Linked DNA regions of Homo sapiens. The protein of the gene in region 2 interacts with the protein of the main gene of each other region in a pairwise test. Each region holds a gene or a part of one and is shown on either strand. Other genes may lie near its edges.

Region 1 (7,000 bases), on a different chromosome or scaffold from region 2:
GCCTCAGCCTCCCAAGTAGCTGGCACTACAGGCACCCACCACCACATCCGGATTTTTTTTTGTATTTTTAGTAGAGACGGGGTTTCATCGTGTCAGCCAGGATGGTCTCGATCTCCTGACCTTTTGATCCGCCCACCTAGGCCTCCCAAAGTGCTGGGATTACAGGCGTGAGCTGCCGTGCCTGGCCAGTCTTTTCATGCTAAAACATAACCTTCATTCATTCATTCAACATTAATAAAATTATGTGATTCTGCCCTCAAGGAACTTACTTTCAGTTTAGTATAAAAGGTAAGAACAGGTACATTAGCTTAACTTATTTTTAAAAATTAGTATCTTCAATATTACACTATTAATACCATCAATACTAATAGCAAATAGACATTTATTTGATAACTATTTATTAAGCACCTAATCAAGGAAGCTAATAAACGATTTTTTAAAAAAACATTTTTGGTAATAACAAAATGATCAAATTAAACCAGTTCATTCACACTATTAAGGTGGTATACCTTATAAAAGACTTCTGGAAAATACATGAGAAAATAAAGAAAAAATTATGCATCTATCTTGCCCTTGTAGAACTATTAACCTAACTGGGAAAATAAAAGACATAAATATATGTTTATGAAAATACCAATAAGCTCTATTAAGAATAAAAATTACCTTTGATTTTCTCTGATATGTCTTCATCCATATTTTCTTCAAGATCTTGACCAGCCTGAACAAATGTTAAAGACTTGTAGGATACAATCATTAGACCATTTCCATCAGGCTCAATAGCAGCATAATGTGGCACTGACTTTCCACGGAGAATATCACGCTTAATAATTTCATATTTTTTATTATCTGTAAGAAAAGTATTTCAGAACAAAACATTACAAATAAAAACTATTATCAAAATATTCTGATATTTAAAAATTGATTTTAATTATAATTAAATAATTTGAATGTATTATTAAAAGGTACACTATTAAGAGTCTTTTCATAAGGATAAACAATTTACAATCTAATTTTCCGTAAATAAGTCCCTATTTTAAAATATTGGGTCTGGTGAAATTTGTTCCCGATTGTCCTGTCCAATGTGGTAGTCACTGGCCAGAAGTATCTACTTAAAATTAAGTAAAATTTAAATTCCTCAGTCATACTAGCCACATTTTAATTGCTCAATAGCCACACATGGCTAGTAGCTACTGCAGTGAATGGTACACATATAAAACATGTCCATCTTGGAGAAATCTCTTATTAGACAGCAGTACCCCAGAACTCCAACATGACCGGCTTACTTGGAATAACAGCTTCTGTATGACCTACCTCTCCTTGACTAAAGCCTGTCTGCCTTCTCAGCAGGTATGTGATAAGTTTCTTCTGAAAAGTGACAAATTGAGGACAAGGGGAAACATGCAGTGTGGTCTATTTTTCTGCCTGCTCTAACTCCCGATAAGGGGCATTTTAACAATGAAATAAATTTATAGCAGAAATGATTTTTTTTACACAAGACATTTATCTATATGCTTATAATTAAACATAAATTAGTGCTACTTTTAAGATATAAACAATTAACTGTATTCCAAAAGTTTCTGACAAATTAAACTTATTTTCCTATAAAGACAGTAATTTTTTGCTTTAAAAAGTACTCAAACATTTTAGCTGACTCCATACTTTTACCTATACTGTTACTCTTTAAGTGGGTTATACTTGTAGGCTTCATACTGAGTAGTCGAAAATCACAACTTAATGTCATATTATTATGAGTTTTTACATAATAATACCATCTGTTCTAAAATATCTCATTGTTTTTACTCAAAATCCTCACCTACATTCACACATTCAGTTCACACATATTTAAGAACAGGCTTGTAATTTAATGAATGAACAAAACTCCTACACTTCCCCTATAGATACATGCAGGGCCAAAAGTCCTACTTGACTTTAAAGATCCAAACACCGACATCACATATTTATAGCGTGGCCTTTCCCAGCATGCATGGGACAGAAAAGAATAGGAAGCCTCAAAAACCGGATTCCGTGGTTAAATATGTGGAGAAATGCTAGGTTAAAATTAAATGTAAATTGTTTTTTGTTTGTTTGAGACAGGGTCTTACCCTGTTGCCCAAGCTAAATGCAGTGGCACGATCACTGCTCACTGTAGCCTCAAACTCCCAGGCTCAAGCAATCCTCCTGAATAGCTGGAACTATAGGTGCACAACACCATGCCGAGCTAATGTTTCTGTAATTTTTGTAGAGACGGTGGCTCACTATGTTGCCCAGACTGGTCTCAAACTCCTGGGCTCAAGTGATCCTCCTGCTTTGACCTCCCAAAGTGCTGAGATTACAGGCATGAGCCTTTGCATCTAACCTAAACTTTTTTTACTCACAATTTTTAGAAACTTTAATATGCTTAATGTGTAATGGAGCTATTTTATGTCCACATTTTCAAACTTATCTGACCATAAATATACTTTATGAAATGTTTCATTCAAAATAGTTTACGAAAATACTGTTCTGTTAACTAAAAAGAAAAAGAAGAAAAAAACCAATCATATTAGTAGTAGTCTGGGAGAGAAGGAACAAGATATAAAAGAAAGATAAAGGGAACAATAAAGAGAATTAATGATTCTATAACTACAATCTTGGGAGAAAAAAGGTTAGTCTCAATGTATTTGTCCAGCTGAGGCAAAGAAACGAAGACAAACGGGATGGAGAAGTAGAGCTGGAGCAGAGTACTGCTATGTTCTGAGGCAATTTGATGAGTTACCACAGATTGAGAAAAAGATGTTACAGAACCAAGTGTCTTGGAGAAAGGAGGAGGAATATGCATGACAATGTCTCCTGTAAGATTTTGAATTACGTACCTTAAAAAAATTAAGGCTTCCATTATCTAAAGCAGGGGTTCTGCAAACTAGGACCCTTGAGCCAAAGCTGAATCTAGGCCTATTTTTGTATGGCCTGTGAGCTAAGCATGAATTTTATATTTTTAAATTGTTAAAATAGTAATATTTAAAGAATAATATTTAAATATATGTCAAAAAAACATAAAATTCAAATTCCTATGTCCATAAAGTATGATTGGAACACAACTATACTCATTCATTTATATATTGTCTATGGATGCTTTTGTACTGTGTTGGCATACTCGGATAGCTGTGACATAGATCTTATGGTTACCAACTGGGATTTCAAAAAAGTTTTCTAATATCTAATTAAAGTTTAAAGTTACTGTGTTCCTCCAGAGATAAAACTACAACACCAAAAAGAACTAATAAATTATATTGAATACTTCAAAGAACAAATCTAGGAGACTTATTCAGTTTATTTATAAACAATTTTGAGATATCTATTAGATAGACAGATAGCTGTTTTAGAATAAAAGGCAAAACCCTCTTAGGAAACAAATACTAACAGTCTTTACTGAATTGCAAACTAGCAGCTATGGTAAAGAAATATTTTTCTACAGAGATGAATGATAATTTAATTTATATTAACTTACTCATAAATGAGTCAGCTAATAAAAACTACTGAGAAAAAGAGCATAGAGTCATTATGGAAACAAGCACTCTCAGTACTCAACTACAGTTAAAAAGAAAACACTCAATGAGTCAGCAGGAACTAAGCAAAGGCAAAGAGATTTCTTAATACCTTAAAGAAATCCTAATTAATTCATGAGATTGTAATTTTTAATGTCAAGTTAGAAGCTTGACAGACAGCTTCAAACAGACCAAAGTTCAGGACTATTCTAAACATGGGAGCACATCAGGTAAGAAAAAGTAACAGTTTTCCTAAATGTAGAAACAAATAATGAAGTTCAATTAGATTTAAAAGAAATCATACCTGTACTTTAATGAAATAAAGACATTCATTTCCAAGTAAGTATTTATATTTATTTACATTTAAATTATACTATAATGTATTAATTTACATTTAGTTTTAGGTATATGTTTCTGTGTATCACACATATATATGCATATATTTTTGTATATATTAAAAATATACCCGTTAAATTATTCAAAACTTATATAACAATGTCTTCTTTTATATAAAAGGCATAATTGGCTGTGGATGCACACTGCAATTTTTTTCTATAAAATATACCTGAGGAAAAACTATCTATACATATTCATTCCACCAGTGGTGGCAGGTGCCAGAATTGTAACACAATGCCCAAGAAAGAGCAAACAGTATTTACAGGGACAGCTTTGTGTTTCAAAATCTACTAAATAATGCCAACCAGTAGAGACAGATTCAGACTTTTGTTTTACCTTGATTTTTCTTACTGATAGTGACCCACTCCAGAGAAACATAGAAACCACTTCCTTTCATATCCAATTCCTCTTTCTCTATTCGAAGAAGTAGGGTAGCTATAGAATGTTCTTCAGCATTTAGCAGTGAGATACTGTGAATTATAATAAAAGGATCCCCAAGTTCTTCATTAAACATAATCTACAAAACAAAATTACACACACAAAAAAGTGTACATAATTACATGAACACAGATAGCATAGAGGGAATATATAGGATTCTGGTGATTCAACAGTTATTTTGGATACTATTTATTACAAGAAATTTGAAAATAAAAAGGCCTTTACATAAAGACTGCAAGTTTAGATAATGTTCCCTGAGGACAGAACTTTTAAGAAAATATTTATTTGTATAAGAAAAAAACTGATCATTAGTCTTGGCTACCTTGCTTCCTCTCAGTTTCTAGATATTGTATATGAGTGTGCATGTGTGTATGCCTTTTTCCTGTTTTTTGTTTGTTATTTATTCTCTGGAAGTTTACAAAGGCAAGAGTCAAAAACATTGAAGAATAAATCACCAAAACATGTTTTTTCTCAAAAACAAAAGAGCCTATTAGCATTTAAGAATAAGTTAACAAACTCTATTTAAAATAATCCTAAAGTGTTTTTTGAAAAGCAAAAAAGCATCATATAAAAACACACAAAATCTTGTCTAAGCATCATACAGAAACACACAAAATCTTATCAAATTCTTTCTTATACCACAAACACAAGATCTCAACAACTATTACATTTTTAAGACTAAATACAAAATAGAGAAGGTTTTAAGGCTGCTTCCTAAACAAGATTTCCAAATAAGATATGGACAGTTGAGAAAAAGCCTAACTGAAAAAAAGGTAGCTTTAAAAAACAAAAACAAAAAACAAAAAACAAAACCTGTACCTGGTATCCCCACATATCTACTTCTACTTGAAAACCTTACAAAGAAAAATGTGCTTTAATGTCATCAAGTTCCCTATGTATTTGAACATCTGCCAAAATCATTCAAGTAATGGGCCTTCAGAATCCATTCTTAAGATTTCCATAAACAGAAAAAACAAAAGCTTAAAAAAAATCCTTAAATATTCAAAACAGAGATGACAGATGAAGGCAGGTTTTTATTGGTTGATTGGGTTTTGCTTTTGTTTGAGGAATAGGGGAAACAAAACGGAAGAACAGAAAATGACAAGTTTTGGCAGGAACAAGTAGCTAGTTTATTGTTTCTTTTTTTCTTTCTAGTATGAGTGAAAGGAACTGTAATGAAACCAGAAGAGTAGATGGCGTACTTTTAAAAATTGTTAGGCTGAAGTTTCTAGTTTTCTGAACAAGCCCAGCATCTAAACTGTGATACCGTTGATACATGGCACTTCCATGGTATTAGAGGCAACACATTTGGAAAGCAAGCTGTCTCCTTTAATTTCTCTTTTTAAACTTCAGTAATCACCACCACCACCCTTGGCCCCCTTACCCCCCACCATGCTCCGTAATCACTTCTACTTTTAGCTTCTCTGTTATATTAATTACCCTAAAGTCCTAAAACCCTCCTGAATTGTTTCTTAAAGTGACCAATATTCCACAGTATCCCTCCCACCTCAATTAATCCCCAAGTCTCCTCCCTCTCCCACCAGTATCTAGTCAAAACTATTATTAGCTGAAAACATCTCTGAAGGGAGCTTATTTCATTAGGGCAGTATATGCTAAAGAAGGCACAAGGTAGAATTAAGTTTTTAAATTTATTTAAAAGATACTATTGAAGTCTTAATACACGCCAAGGGGATACACAAAACAAAACCAAAAGAAGTATAAGCCCATATGAAATAATGTGTGGTATTATTTTTAAGATGAAAGTGAGCCAAGTAGGTTTGTCCTGTTCAAAATCTACAGAATCCATACAGCTCAATACCAGATAAATTCCCACTCATATCTCTCCTGCGCATTATTCTCAAAATACCTTCCAACTGTTTCAGGTAGCTGTGCTACATACCACATTACTTCTGTTTTTCAGAAAAATGAAAGTTGTTACTAAAGGCCAAAACAGAAATTGCCACAGTATCCAATGAATATCTGAAACTGTGAATGCAACAGGCTCTTGTAAATAGGCTACTGCTGTTCTGGTTATTTACTGTGTATTTTGAACATACTATAATTTGGTAGTATAACATTTAGTATAACTTAGTAAGGTAGGTAAACCATTTGGTTCTAAGACCTAACTGGTTTTTCTCAAGTAATTAAAGCCTGGTCTCTGTAGGCATCTGTTGGTCAGATGAAATTATTTTATAAGACATAAATATATTAAGCTCGCATCTCTTTATTTACCCAGAACTAAAGGCTACCTACAGAGATTCAGACAGTAGCAATATTACAATACACTTATTAGCATAACTCAAAGGAGCTGAAGCAGTAAACTAAATCTTTTGATTATCTACTTGGCATCATTTTCTTCTGTTTTCAAAAACTGTAGTTCTAGAGAAATTAATTCCTTATTTATTACTATTAAAACCCTAAACTACCCTTTAGATTTATATCTAATTTTTAAAATTAAAGTAAAAATGTTGTCTTGGAAATTGGCATATAACTATATATTTATATCATGTATTTTTCTAAGTAGAGAATATTCTGGTAATCTGACTACTATTTGACCAATGTAAACATCCCAGCAAATCTAACATAATGGCAGAGGAGAAAATCATCCTAACATAAGCTTTTGGTCAACTCTTCTTCAAGAA
Region 2 (8,685 bases):
CCCAGAGCTGCAGGCTGCCCCATTTGCCCCATGGTCCCCAGGAAATCTTCTCCAACCCAGTCCCCTACCCACCCTCCACCCTCCAGCCGGCTTCGCATCAGAGAAGTGCGTGGCATGGAAGGGTCAGTTCGTAACATGGTGGCCTCAATACCTTGCTGAAGAGGATGTCAACAGGGAAGGTACGGCCAGGGATGTGGAAGATGGGGACATTCCCAAAAAAGGCAGCAAACTTCTCCGCATCCATCGTGGCTGATGTGACGATGAGCTTCAGGTCTGAGCGCCGAGCCACTACCTGAGAGAAGAGGCGGCTCGGAGGCCCCCATGGTGGGGACCCTTGGCTCCTGTCCCCCAGTCCCATCAGCACCACCCCCGAGGAAACACAAGCCAAAGCTGACAAATGGGCCTATTCAATTCTTACCAATCATGAAGACTGAAGCAATGGAGCCACTGCCCAGAAAACCCCAAGCCACCCTCAGCAGAGCAAGAACAGCATGAACTACAACCCGAGTCTGAACTGCAACCAGAGGCCTCAGGAACCTCTGGCCTACCAGAGACCCCCTCAGCCCACCTGGAGCAACCCACTAGCTACTGGTGGTGCACTGGTCAACACCCCATGCGCAGAGAGACCAAACCACACAGCCCTCACCTCCCGGAGCAGCCCAAAGAGCACGTCAGTGTTGAGGGAGCGCTCGTGGGCCTCGTCCATGATGATGGCACTGTAGTGATCCAGGTCGGCTTCCCGGAGGGACTCTCGGAGCAGGATCCCGTCAGTCATGTATTTGATCAAGGTGTTCTCTGAAGTGCAGTCTTCAAAGCGGATGGCATAGCCCACCTGGAGGTCAGAGAGATGGCTCAGATGCCCTGGCCACCGGCTCACCACCAGCACACCCCGTACTGGGGTCCGAGTCTTAGCAGATCACACCCTTTAGCAAAAATGGGTGGAAGCTACTAGGGAATAACTACATGGCTCAGCCCCCACGCCCACTCACCTCCTCGCCAAGGTTTCCCCCCATCTCTTCACTGACTCTCTTGGCCACTGACATGGCAGCTACACGCCGGGGCTGGGTACACCCAATCATCCCATAGTCCGTGTAACCATCTTCATGCAGGTACTGCGTCAGCTGAGTGGTCTTACCACTCCCCGTCTCCCCAACCACGATCACGATGCTGTTGTCTCTACAAGGACAAGCAGGCAAAGGGCTTATCAGCCGAAGTGGAAGGCCAACACCCAGCCTCCAAGAAGACTCCGCTACCTCCTATCCCCATGACTAGCTATCCAGGGAGCATGCCGGTTTAGAAGGGAGAATTTCACTGGGACAACAGCCTCTTACTGAGATAACACCTGAAACATCTGGAATACGGTGAGGTTTAAACAGGTGAGCTAAAACAAAATGGTGCCATCCCGTTACTTTGTGCAGTGTACCCCAGGCATGAGGTCAGAGGAAAAAAGTATTTCCCTTCTCCACTGGGTGCAATGCACAAAAGAAAAAGAGCTCCTGGGTAAACATGGGAGACCAAGGGCACCCCTGACTTGACACTAGATTCCTGGGCCCCGGGTGAAGTTACCTGATAATAGTGAGCAGCTCCTGCTGCACTGCAAAGATGGGCAGGTACTGCCTCTGCTCCAGGATGGACTTCTTCTTTGCAAATTCACTGCTGGCTTCGCTCTTTCTCTTCATGTGATCTGCAAACTTCTGCTCTGTCCTAGGAACACACAGCAGCCTAAACACCCTGCATGGTGCCCCATGCTGTCCTTCCTGATTGGGTTGCTGCCCTCCTTCCTACGCTCAGGAATGAGGACTTCGGCAAGAGTCTGAGACACCAAAGCAGCCAGGGAATCTGAGATGGTTCTCATCGACCTCAGGACTGAAACTGCTACTTGAGAATCCATCATCCACAACACACTCGACACCACAGGGTCCAACAGAGCTAGCTGAACATGGATCGGAGGATTTACAGATCACCATATTAGCAAACCCTCTAACCAAAACAGAGTGAGCAGAAGAGGAGTGGAAATCAATCCCCAGGTCACTAACTTGTAGAAAATACCCTCGGGCAATTTCAGCACAACGTCTAAAGGGCTAAAATAGCCACACAGGCCTTGTGAGGAGGTAAGGGTGCAGAGCACGGGACATGGGTCAAACTTCCTCCCTCCTCTTGGCAGGACAGCAGGAAAGCATAGTCTGTACGGTTTTGTTTTCAAAGAACTGTGAAAACAGCCCCACTAAACAGTAACCTGCAACCTCTACTGAAAGCTCTCAATGTCTGACACATGTACACACCCGAGATGCAGAGCACTGTCACTTTCTCAAGGCTGCCTGGCAAAAAGACACCAGTTCAGTGCTCCACACAGTCCACACACCCCTCCCCAACCCCCTCCCCAGAGACTTCCTGTCTGATGTGCCGCCCCATGCTCTGCTGAGCTTCCTATTTCTAATTTCACCCAGTCCCTCCTGGTCACCCAATAACTAATACCTGAGGAATTAAGTTAACTAGAGAAGAATAAGGGCTGATCAATAGTACCAACTTCTCGTATGGACATTTCACACAGGAGTGGAGAGAATTATTAACTCAGATGACCGTTCAGTAGAACATAAGGGCATTCGAAGGATGAGGATCTTAAGGGACAGATAAGTCCAGCCACCTGCCCAATGCAGGAATCCCAACTCAGCATCTGCTTAGATGCCTCTATGAGCAGAGAAGTCACTGGCCAATAAGATAACCCTTTCTATTTTGGAACCTCTTTTAAAAATAGTTCTTATAGTGAACTCAAATCTAAGGGACTAAAACCCAGCTGCCCATGCTGAACACCTGGGAGGTACTTCAGCAGAGTGGCTCTGATGTGAGACGGCCTGGGTCTGATCCTAACTCCCTCACTGACAAGCTGGGTGACCTCAGACAAGTTACTTAACCTCCCTGGGCCTCCTTCCTCTCACAACACCAGCACCAGAGGAAGCAGTGTGAGGGAGGAGGAATCACATATAGGAAAAGTGGAGGACAGTGAAGAGACCAGGAGGAAGGGACCAGAGAGAATGGAAGATGCAGAGAGGTATCCTAAGAGTCTCCCACTCAGGAGCCACAAAGTCGATGGGTTCTGCCGCAACTGCCCACATGGGCCCCCATCTTTGGAGCAAGGCTGATGTGCTGCTGGCTGAGGCTGCCCACCTGTAGTCCACCTTCCCATCCTCCGTCACAGCTTTATCTGGCTCTTCCTCCTTCTTGACGCCCATTATATCTCCCAGTTTGGTCCCCGCCAGTTCCCAGTGTTTGTGCTGAGCCTGAAAAGGAAAAAGGTCAGTCTGCTCCATCCTGCCACATGACTGCGAGCAATGGAAAATCAATCCCACGGGAGAGCAGACTTCACCCCGCAGGTGGTAAACTCCCCCAGAGTGCTGGTGGCACCGAGCCACATTCCAATCCTCAAGCCTCCAGCTCTCCCAACACCAGGCCCCGCAGCTGTCGGGCCTAAGGACTTGATAGAGGGGACTCCTAACTTCTATCTGTGGGCCTAGTAAGACTTATGAAGAGAAGAAAAAAGAAAAAAATACACATAAACTTCCCAGCCACGAAACCAAGAAACCAACCTTCTTGCGCTCCTTCTGCTCCCTGTGCTTCCGCACTGTCTGGCTGCCTTTCCGAGCAATGATGGCCAGGTCAGAAGTAGCATCCTTCACTGGAATCACCGGCTCCGGCTGCAGCAGTGGGGAGAAAGAGCGATGCCCGTTAAAATCAGCAAGAAGGCCATGTTCATAAGATCCCTACTTGTGAAAGGGACTGCTACCCTCTCATGGTACAGGGCTATTTTCTCCCTTCTCTTCTTTCTGTCTCCACATCAGGCCTTTTTTGTGTGTGAGACAGAGTCTTGCTCTGTCGCCCAGACTGGAGTGCAGTGGTGTGATCTCTGCTCACTGCAGGTTCTGCCTCCCAGGTTCAAGCAACTCTCCTGCCTCAGCCTCCCGAGTAGCTGAAACTACAGGTGCCTGCCACCACACCCGGCTAATTTTTGTACTTTTGAGACAGGGTTTCACTATATTGCCCAGGCAGGCCTTGAACTCCTGGTATCCAATGATCCACCCTCCTCAGCCTCCCAAAGTGCCGGGATGACAGGCATGAGCCACTGCACCTGGCCCACATCAGGTCTCTCTGAGCTGTCTTGTCCCTGGCCACAGAGGAGCCTCACCTGCTTGGTGAAGACAATGCGCCCATCCAGAAAGGGAGGCACCAGATTGTGCACCATCAGATGCACCTTGGCCGCGTTGTCCTCTTCAAAGTCCTCATCCACCTCCAGCCGATGGACCACCCCACTGGTGAGCATGCGGTTTGTCTCCCAGCGCTCGTTATCCTGTGAGGACACAATGGGAGCCACACTCAAATTGCCACCCCAAAGGTCGTCCTGAAAGGTTATGAGGTAAGTCCACACATCAAGTCCTGACAGAAGGCCACTGGTAGCTGCAAAGATGTCACAGGCCTCTACCCACAGCTCCAAAGACAGAAGAGGTGCTGATCCCAAATCACCTGCAGGAGTTTGTTCCAAGCAGCAGCACCTTTCATCTAAATCAGAACCTCTAGAGGGACACACAAATGGTAAGTGTCCCTAGCCCACATCAGAGACACAAAGAACACAGACCACAGAGGCAGGTCCCAATGCACCTGTTCCCATCAACAGTACTTCCCCTCAAGGAAGTACTGCAAAAGAGAGAAGTACGAGCCGGGGCTTTCCTTAAGCTACTAAAAGGCTCATCACCCACTCCTCTTCCACCTCCAGAGGATCTGGGCTTCTCGGCAATCAGGGGACAAGCTGTGCTGCCCTCACTTGGGGATAACCTGCTGCTTCCCCACGTGCTCTACCTCCAGCTCTGAATCTGCTCCAACTTCTGCAGGCAGCCTCACCTCATTGATCTGTCTCCGCTGAGCTGAAATGCGCTTCTGCTTCTGTTTATGCAGGTGCTGCTCCCGCCTCCTCACGTAGTCCTCGGAGGAGTAGGCCAGCGGGTTGTGGAACTCGTCATAGCCCTCGTCCATCATGTACCAATCCCGATCGGCTTGCTGCAGGGCAGGAGGCAAAGCAAGGGAGTGAGGGACAGATCAAGTTTATGCACGAGACATGGCCAACAGAAGAAGGGACGCTTGGTAGGAAGTCACTACTGCAGTGGAGCTACCCTTGTGAGGGGTGCAGGAGAGGCCTCCCTGCAGACACATGCCATCTGGAGGAGAACCACAGTGGGCAACTACACAGGACTGGAGGGCAGCCCATCACGATAGCACTTCTTAGATTTACCACATGGTGGCACCAACACATAACAGAACAGTTAGGTCAGCCTACTGCAGTGAGTGACAGGGTTCACCGTGCCGTCTATGCCTCTGCAAAGAGACTCCAGGGCATTGGGTCTGAACAGGGCTCAGGTGTACCCTCATCAAAGCCCAGTCCTGCTAGAGGGTCACCCATCTACAGACGGCCACCAGCCCCGATCAGCCCCTCAGAGGTATAAAACTTTACCCTCTGGTCATCTTCCCACTGCTGCCGCTCCTCCTCCGTGTCAAATGAAATTCCTTCTTCGCCCTCCTCACGTCTTCCTGGAGGAGCACAGGAAGCAGGTCAGTCCATGCCCTGGCCTGTCCCCAGCGGCCCCAGACAGATCTGCAGGGCCATGCAGCTCCAGAAGGGCAGCCCCTGCTCATCCTCGCTAGGGCAAGCAAGCCTGCTCTTCTGCCTGCTGCCCCACAGGCCTCACCTCGGCCCCTGGACAGACGCGGGGTGGACCCCAAGTGTCTTCTGTCATCGGCCCACTCGTTATATTTGTAGGAGGGAGTTGGCAGAGGCGTGTCATCCGAGTACTTGCCCCTCACAGACCTGGGAACAGCAGCACCAGCATCACAAAACTGTCACTGAGCTAAGCCACGTCCTCCTGGCCACCATCTGCTCTCCCTGCCGAGGCTCCTTACCGCCCACCCAGCGAAACTGGGCTGCTCTGCCCAGAACATCACCTGTCTCGATCTCGAGTGGACAGCCGATGGCTCCGCTCAGAATCCCGATAGGAAGGCGTCGGGGAGGGCGATTCCCACTGTGAGCGCCTTGAGGAGCCATAGCCACTGTCCTCTTCCTCCCAGGTAGACCTTGAAGGGGTGGCTGCATCTGGGCCACAAAAGACACATCCACAGGAAACATCTCACTTAACCATGACATGGTCTAGAACCAGTTGCCAAAAGTCAATTCCCCAAATTTACTCCTTTTACTATTTCTAAACCTTGCATGTATCTATAACGGTTAAGATCGGTTTTGACAGTTTTTAAAGATATCTCAATTTTTAATGGTCCAGGATGTATTTTTCCTTTTTTTCTTTTTTTGAGACAAAGTCTTGCTCTGTCGCCCAGGCTGGAGTACAGTGGTGTGATCTTGGCTCACTGCAACCTCTGCCTCCCGGGTACAAGTGATTCTCCTGCCTCAGCCTACCGAATAGCTGGGATTATAGGTACCCACCACCACCCCAGGCTAATTTTTGTATTTTTAGTAGGGATGGGGTTTCACCATGTTGGCCAGGCTGGTCTCGAACTCCTGACCTCAAGTAATCTGCCTGCCTCAGCCTCCCAAAGTACTGGGATTACAGGTATGAGCCACTGCACCTAGCCAATGGTCCAGTTTGCATTCTGTGTTTATGACAACATTTTAAGGGATATTTACTTTATCTCTACAAACACACCCTTCTTGGATATAAGTAGTTCTTTTTAATAAACACTTCTTCTACCTCCAGCTCCCTATTCTTTCCTACCATTTGGAAAACTGGCCATTCAGCAAACCAGCCTCTCACCTTACAGGAACCATATCCACCCCAAGTGCAGAGCTGTGCCCACCTGACTCAGAACCAACTATCCCAAGATGTTCATGGTAGAATCGGGAATTCTGACTCAATGCCTCAGCAATCTCACTGAAGACGAGAGTCACTCACTCTGCCTTTTATACACTTGAATCCTCACAAGCCACCAAAACAGTGAGTCTACCTTTAGGTCGATGTCGTGGGCTCTCGGGTTCATTTCTTCTGCTGCTACGCTCTGACCCTCCATCTCGCTCTGATCTGCTGCTGTGCCTACTTCTATCCCGCTCATCTATGAAGAGTCACACGAAGCTTAAAAACATGCATCCCATCCTAAGGTATACACATCTTCACCCTAGAGAAAGGACAGGCTGCCCACTCACTCACAGGTGCAACCTGCACTGCTCGAATGTGATCCGTGGACTCCTGAAACTCACCTATCCCCATTCTCCCAAGGGGGAAAAATAGTTACTGCCTAGAAAATTTCAAACCCACAGTAACAGTTATTTTCCAGCAAGAATTCAAAAAATACTAGTGCGAGTTTACAGTGAATCATTTTTTTTAATAGTTACAATTCTATCAGCTATAAAACTTAATACTGAGCAAGGACAGCATTGGATTTTTTTGTCTAGCTTTGTTCCATAGCACTGTCCTTTCTCTATCACCAATACTATTAGAAATGCTGGTCTCTTATACATATTTACCCATTATCTCCTTTATCATCAATTTTCATAATAAAACGAAGACCACACACTCAAGGAGAGCAGCTATGTTACAGGCAACAGCTCTTTTCTTAAACTAGTATTCCCAATCCCAGCAGGGTCAAAACCACTCAGGCGGACATCATGCAAATAGGACTCCCTAACAAATGGGTGTTGCAAAAACTCCTGCAACAAGAAAAAGGCTGACACATTTATTCGAATGCTAATGGACAATAGGAACTGTGCTGGACAGTTTACCTCTGTCCCTCTTGCGGTCATAGTCTCGATCCCGCGATTTCTCCTTCTTCCAATCCTTTTCTTCTTTGGACGAGGCATAGACACCATGTTCCCGCCGCTCCCGCTCTCTCTGCCGACTGCGTTCCCAAAACTCTTCGCTCACACCACCCGGATGGGATGGAGTCTCTACCCGAGCAGACCGATAATGTCTGAAACAGGGAGAGCAACTGGTAAAGGCCCCTCCATAGGAGAAAAACTCTGCCCTAAAACCTTTGGCTGTCCAAACAAGTGATCTGTCCTTTTCCACTTTCTCTCCCTGGGACGCAGGCTCACATATGGCAACAACCCAAGGCATTTCTAACCTCTACCATCTCGTCTTTATTCACCTTTGTTTTTCCCCACAAATTCCTACCTACCTTCAGTATTACAGAATCATAATAAAATCATAAAGCTCTAAATCTCCAACAGGAAAACTGAGAGATAAACATGAGCTGTTATTTTCCAGCCTCCGTTCGCTTCCCTCTGGGCTAACCCATACTAAGGCCTTTACCTGTCTTTCCGGATATTTTGGCCAGCCTGGTCACCGCCCTCTTCCTCAGCATCCTTCTGGTCATCCTTGCTCTCTTCCCAGTCCTTGTAGGAGGAGACTTTGGACTTCTTCTTGTCCTCCCCATCGTCCTTCTCCTCTCGCTCTCTCCGTTTCAGGGAAGCCAGCAAGTCCAGTCCGAGTAATGAAGGGCGGGGAGCAGGAGCCTTGAAGACATGCTGCTCGCTGGCCGCACTTTTGGACTTGCAAATAAGACCACCAACCTGACAGTCCAGATCAGTGCCTTCCAATCGATGGATCGAGGCATCCTCACTGGTGTCCCCCATCACAGGATCTGGGATTTCTCTGGAAGGAAGGCAAACCATTTGGTACTAGAGAAGGCTCAGCTCTA

Evidence for each region. The genes of interacting proteins can lie anywhere in the genome.
Region 1: the proteins of DHX38 (region 2) and NUDCD1 interact in binary tests that used the Homo sapiens proteins (3 or more experiments, as listed by UniProt).

What each region holds. Positions count from the first base shown.
Region 1 is NC_000008.11:109,289,088-109,296,087, forward strand, and holds part of NUDCD1 (nudC domain-containing protein 1), read right to left. Parts: intron 4,438-7,000; coding exon 4,257-4,437; intron 847-4,256; coding exon 664-846; intron 1-663.
Region 2 is NC_000016.10:72,096,093-72,104,777, reverse strand, and holds part of DHX38 (pre-mRNA-splicing factor ATP-dependent RNA helicase PRP16), read right to left. Parts: intron 8,640-8,685; 5' UTR 8,621-8,639; coding exon 8,298-8,620; intron 7,957-8,297; coding exon 7,769-7,956; intron 7,102-7,768; coding exon 6,997-7,101; intron 6,134-6,996; coding exon 5,986-6,133; intron 5,852-5,985; coding exon 5,733-5,851; intron 5,575-5,732; coding exon 5,498-5,574; intron 5,047-5,497; coding exon 4,891-5,046; intron 4,343-4,890; coding exon 4,181-4,342; intron 3,693-4,180; coding exon 3,585-3,692; intron 3,279-3,584; coding exon 3,166-3,278; intron 1,705-3,165; coding exon 1,567-1,704; intron 1,177-1,566; coding exon 990-1,176; intron 833-989; coding exon 647-832; intron 293-646; coding exon 152-292; intron 1-151. UniProt on the Homo sapiens protein: Probable ATP-binding RNA helicase. Involved in pre-mRNA splicing as component of the spliceosome.